Linked DNA regions of Homo sapiens: region 2 is linked to region 1. Evidence: fine-mapped expression QTL. A gene starts in region 1. The other region holds a variant in brackets. All regions are shown on one strand. Distances are between the middles of the regions.

The links.
Region 2: its variant is fine-mapped to the expression of SIRT5 in whole blood (TOPMed, PIP above 0.99).

What each region holds. Positions count from the first base shown.
Region 1 is chr6:13,573,229-13,576,141 of GRCh38, reverse strand. SIRT5 (sirtuin 5) reads right to left here and starts at 1,541. Exons shown (of 10, transcript NM_012241.5): 1 at 1,398-1,541. It overlaps LOC105374937 (a long non-coding RNA gene), which reads left to right and starts at 1,708. Exons shown (of 2, transcript XR_926497.4): 1 at 1,708-2,177. RefSeq lists enhancers at 604-1,189, 779-1,258, 1,190-1,776 and a silencer at 1,469-1,988.
Region 2 is chr6:13,604,263-13,607,175 of GRCh38, reverse strand. The region is part of intron 9 of SIRT5 (sirtuin 5); the gene reads right to left. LOC105374938 (a long non-coding RNA gene) reads left to right here. Exons shown (of 2, transcript XR_007059460.1): 1 at 1-745. Among named protein-coding and RNA genes, the nearest start is that of NOL7, 9.6 kb to the left of the region's middle. The variant A/T (reference allele first, on the strand shown) is at 1,535.

The DNA.
Region 1 (2,913 bases):
TATGTTGAAGAGATAGCTGCATTCCTGTGTTGTTTTCAGCATTATTCACAATAACCAAGATATAGAAGCAACTAAGTATCCATCAACTGAGGACCGGATAAAGAAAATGTGGCACATATATACAATGGAATACTATACAGTCTTAAAACAGAAGGCAATTCTGTCATTTGCAACAACATGGATGAACCTGGAGGACATGAGGCCAAGTAAAATAAGCCAGGCACAGAAGGACAAACAGCACATGATCTTACTTATATACTTGGGGTCTAAAAAAGTTGAACTCATAGAAGCAGAGTAGAATGATGGTTACCAGGGGCCTGGCAGAGGGCTGATGTGGAAGGGAGGGATGTTGGTCAAAGGATACAAAGTTTTAGTTAGGTAAGAGGAGTAAGTTTTAGTGATCTACTGCACAGCATGGTGACCATAGTTGATGATGTATTGTATATTTCCAGGAGAGTAGATTTTCACCACAAAAAATAAGTAGGTGAGGTGATGGATATGTCAATTAGCTTGATTTAATCTTTCTACAATGTATACATATATCAAAACATTACACTGTACGCTATAAATATATAAATTTGTCAATAAAAATAATTATATAAATATATATTTATATAAAACAAAATACATGCTAAGGATAATGCAATGAACTGCAAAAAGTTGTACAGGCTCCCAATAAATAATTTTTGAACGCCTAAGAGCTAAATAAATGCAATACATCACTCCCAGGTGTCTCCACTAGGGGGCCCCATTCCCTCCCGTTCCATCACCTGCTTTCCTCAAGGTCGTCTCCACCCTCCTATTTGTTGATACCCGGCCTCTGACCCAGTTCATCACTTTCCCGGGCTTCCGGGCGCCACCCTCTTCAGGTTTTCCTCCTACCCCTCCAGCCCTGCCCCTCTGGATCTCCCATCCTCCCAGCGCGCCAGACTGCATGCGGCCTCCCCGCCCTGTGTCCAAGAGGCAGCTTCCACTCCACGCGGGCAAGCCTGAGCTCCAGAGCCGTCCTCAAGCCGCCTCCCCCCGAAGCACTGGGACTTCATCCTCCCGGCTACTACTCGTGCCCAGGGACTAGGCCCTGAGCCTTCCCTTCTCGCACGCCCCATAGCCAAGCTGCTCAGCAGAACCTGACGGCTCCACCTTCAAACTACGTCCGGAATCCGACCCCTCTCCACGCCCACTGCCTCCACCCCGGCCACCTTCCTCGGTCACCCTGGCAGCTGCAATGACCAGGGTGACCTTTCTGAAAAGGGAGGCTCTGTTCGGAGCCCTCGCGGGGCTCCCCAGCACAGCGGCCTCCCATGCCCACCTGCTCGGGTGGGATTACTTTCCAACCCCGTTTCCATCCCCCTCCCTGGTCTCCAGCCGCAGCGACCCCCACGCAGAGCCCGGAAGACCTTGGGCCCCGCACATGCTGCCGGCCCGCTAAGAGCTCTGGGTACCCCCGGAGCGCCTTCCAGGCTTTCTCCTAGAGGCGCTGTGTCCCGACCGCGCTCCGGACCTGAGCCACGGCTCACCTGGGGCAGCTCGCGCCCCCGAATACAGTCTCCCACGCCCCGCCCCCCGGGGTGCCTCCCTCCCAGCTCTCTGTACCCACCCACCATCCCCCACATCCCTTCCTCCAACCGCTAGCCAGTCACCAGCCCGGGACCGCAGGGCAGAGGCCGGGCCGCGCATGCGCACCGCGGACCGGTGCCACCTCCGCTCGCGAGCCCGCGGCAGGCCCTGGGCGGTGCGCGCAGTCCCGCGAGAGCAGTGCTTGGTCGGGACCTCGAAGCCGGAGCCCGAGCGGGAGAGGCCGCGGAGACCCCGGCCCGGCGCAGGCAGAGACGCACCTGCGGGAGGCGGGCGCGCCGGCTGGAGAGGAGGCCGTGGGGCGGAGCGGCTCAGCGTTCTGCTCGGCTGCAGCGGCCCCTGCCGGAGACCCGGGCGCCGTGGTCTTCTTTATAATTGAAGGATTGTCTCTCTGTTTTTATTTGGGGTGGGGGTGGGGGTGGGGGGCGGCGCAGTGACTTGCTTCGACTTTGTCAGCTTCCAGGGTTCATTCCACTGCCCAAATATGTAGTGAGTTACTACCGGCTTTGCTTCCTCCTTCAGCAAACGGCTGGACCACACAACTTCAGGAGAGAGGATTTTAAATGTTAGGGTCATTTTCCCTAAAACGATTTCAAATGACGGTGAGTTGGTTCCCAGGCTAGGCCACCTAACCTCGAACGCAATGACGAGTGCACTCTGACTGCTGAGCTGAGAGCCTTCCGTGGCTCTGGGACCCAGTGACTCACGTGGCTCCGCATGTCCCCGTTCCCTTAAAATCGGAGTCTTTCCTTTTCTTGGATTCCGGCTTGCCACCAGCACCACTTGGCAGAATGGAATTGCTTGCGGGCATGTCAGTGGACTAGAAAGGGAAGTAAGTGGTCTGAGAACTTGGGGGCCAAAAATGTTACATTAACATTTTTTGCCTACCTAAAATCTCAGCCACTTCCCACAGTTTGGCTGGAAATTCAGCCCATGTTGAGGCCCTTCTCATTCCTGCAGGTGTTACCAGCAACTCAGAGGTTTATGGAGTAACGAAATTGGGGAGGGCCTCACATCCGGCTGCTGTTTTTCCCCCTAACGTGTATGGTGCTTATTCTGAGCCAGACACTTTTAAGAACTGCACATTATTAACCATTTTAAATCGTCCCCACCACCTGATGAAATAGGTACTGTTATCCCCACTTTATGGGTGGGGAAACCGAGGCCCAGGGAGGTCAAGTAACTGCGCAAAGCACAAAACTGTTGAGTAGTAGTGTTACCAGGGCAGTCCTGGAGAAATCGCTCAGAGGGCAAAACTGAGAGCTCATTATTTTCTTAAACAGTAGACAGCTGAAAATGCTCATTGTTTTTTAAACCGTTTTGTTTGTTTGATTTTTT
Region 2 (2,913 bases), 31 kb before region 1:
GGGGCCTTGGGATCTGATTTTCCTGGTTGTCTGTTTTGTTTTATAAAATAAGGGCTGGAGTCATTCGTATCTTCAGGGGTATTTGGGGAACACGAGGAAGATTATGGATACGACAAGAAAGGTGAGCTCCAATCAGCAGATCCCTACTCAAACAAAAGGCCTTTAGCTCTATTCCAAAAAAAAAAAAAAAAGCAGGCCAAGTGTGTTGGCTCACGCCTGTAATCCCAGCACTTCGGGAGGCTAAGGCAGGTGGATCTCTTGAGGCCAGGAGTTTGAGACCTGTCTGACCAACATGGTGAAATCCCGTCTCTACTAAAAATACAAAAATTAGCCAGGTGTGGTGGTGCACGCCTGTAATCCCAGCTACTCGGGAGGCTTAGGTGGGAGGACTGCTTGAGCCCGGGAGGCAAAGTTTCCAGTAAACCAAGATTGCGCCACTGCACTCCAGCCTGGGCAACAGAGCAAGACTCTGTCTTAAAACAAAACAAAACAAAAAACAAACAAAAAGCAAATGAAGGTAGATTTATGCTTTATATCAAAATGTTTAAAGTATGTATGTGTCCTTTTCTATTAGTCTTGTTTTCAGTGGCTTTTTGAATGAACAGACCAACTAAGCCCTGACTGCATGGACTAGGAGGGCTTCCCTACCCGCCCTTGACAGCACAGCCAGGGAGAGCGCTGGACTTCCCTAACACACACGGTCAACTATCGCTTCAAAGCAGTGACCTCTTCACACCCTAGATAGGTAACTATATAACCACAACAATCTATAAAACTCTTCTACCTAACAATTCCTTAGACTTCTAAACTCCAACAGCAGGTAGCTTGGGTGTCTTCCCTCCCCAGAGCCCCCAACTCCATTACTTTACTGCTCGCCTCTCCTGGGACTTCCTCACTCCACTCCAGCCACACTGAGGGGCCTCTGCTCCAGGTGGTCCCAGTGTCTGAAAAGCTCTTATCCCAGATTATGTCTTCGGCTGCCTCCTTCACCTCCTTCAAGTCTTTGCTCCAATCTCTTCTTAATGAGGTTTGTGCATCTTTACTTTGTGCAGTCTCTTAGCACCTGCTCACGTGCTGTAGAATGTGTACCTTATGTTCACTGCTTACCTGTCTGCCTCAACCACTAGAATATAATCTTTCCTTGGTAGATATTTGTTTTGTTTACTGATATATCCTATCTTAAGCACTTAGAAAAGTGTCTGATACATAGTGGATACTTACAAATATTTGTGGACTTTAATTAAATTCCAACATTTAGAGAAATTTAAAGATCAACAGGGCACAACATAGTGGCTGCAGGGCACAGTGGGCCAAAGGTGCTTTGAAGGCCCTGGCCACCAGCTCCCTGCAGCGACAGTCCCATTTTTGCCTCAGCGAATGTACAAATCCTACAAGCCAAGGCCCCCTGGGGTTGAGTAACAGTCAAAACACTGAGGTTTAAATTCAAAAATGCCTAGGGTTTATTGGAATAGTCAGGGTTTATCAGAAATCATCCAATATAAGCATCGGACATGGGGAAAACGACAAAACCAAA[A/T]CTGGAACTAATTAACACCTTGAAAATAGAAATACATTCCTGTGGGAGGAGAATTCTATGCCTTTGTCACTAGATTAGAACTGGGGCAAAGAATCTGAACAACTTGTGTAAGGCCTAAGGTGTCTTGTGAGATCCAAATCCTTATTAAAATATAGGCAGCATTCTAGCTGCCTATTTAGGTAACAAAGAAAATCAGGTTAAAAGTAGCAGAGAACATTATTCCATTTTTTTTTTCTCCGTAACCTAGAGCAGGGGTTAGAAAACTTTTTCTGTAAAGGGCCACACAGGACATATTTTAGGCTTTGCAGACCAGCCAGTCTCTGTTGCAACTATTCACCTCTGTCATCCTAATGCAAAAGCAGCCACACACAATATACAAACATATGGCCACAGCTGTGTTCCAATGAAACCTTATTTACAGATACAGGTGGTGGGCAAATTTGGCCCACAGGCAGTAGTTTGCTGACCCCTGACCTAGGGTAAAGTTCAACCAAAATCTGTTAAGCACGAGATATACAATTCTGCCATTGTTAAGCTCTGTGTTTAAACAGTCCTCTCAATTGCTCCAGGGTTGGTTTCTGCCTTTGAAAAATTGAGTAGGATGAGATGACTATCACCAGCATCTCTTCTAAATGTCAGCTTTGATGATGCCAAGAAAAAAGCATTGCTGGCTTCATTGATCAGTTACTCCTTCATTGATGAGATGACAGTTCTTGTGGTCAGTCTGGTTGATAAGTAGCTTGCCAAATTGATAAGAATTTCTAACTAGCAAGTAGCCTGTTTGTTAGAGACAATCATAGGTTTTCAAGACAATATGAAGCTGAAGAATTTTGGCTGAAGTAGCAGCTGAAACAGGTCTGTGGTTTTAGGAGGCTTGACTTGAGCAGTGATATATATTACATGCCAAGAATCTCTCCTGAACTGGCAGGAAAAACCACCAAGTTCAGTTTCTTTCACATGAAGACACAGCCACCATATCCAAGGGATGCTGGGCCCCTGCTGCTCAGTCCATGGCATGGGAGGTGGGGGCCAACTCTAAACTTGGGTTGTGGAAATACTCCAGTTTTATTTTCTTCTTTTTCTCTATCTGCATTTTCTTGCTTTTCTACAATGATGACTTGTTTTAATTCTTTATAATAATTAGAGATGAGATGGAGATCAAATGACTGAAAAGAAACCACATTAGAAGAACCAAACTGGGGACATAGCTCAGGTCCTGCTTCACAAAGTTTATCCTGTCCCACTCTTCGAGTTTTCTGATGGTCTTTCAAACAGACAGGAGGCTTGAGCTGCCTAGCTCCGGTATTACTACGCTTAGTCATGCTAAGTGGCCCAGCTGCTCCACATAGGTGCCACAACACAAATCAGACGGAGGCTCA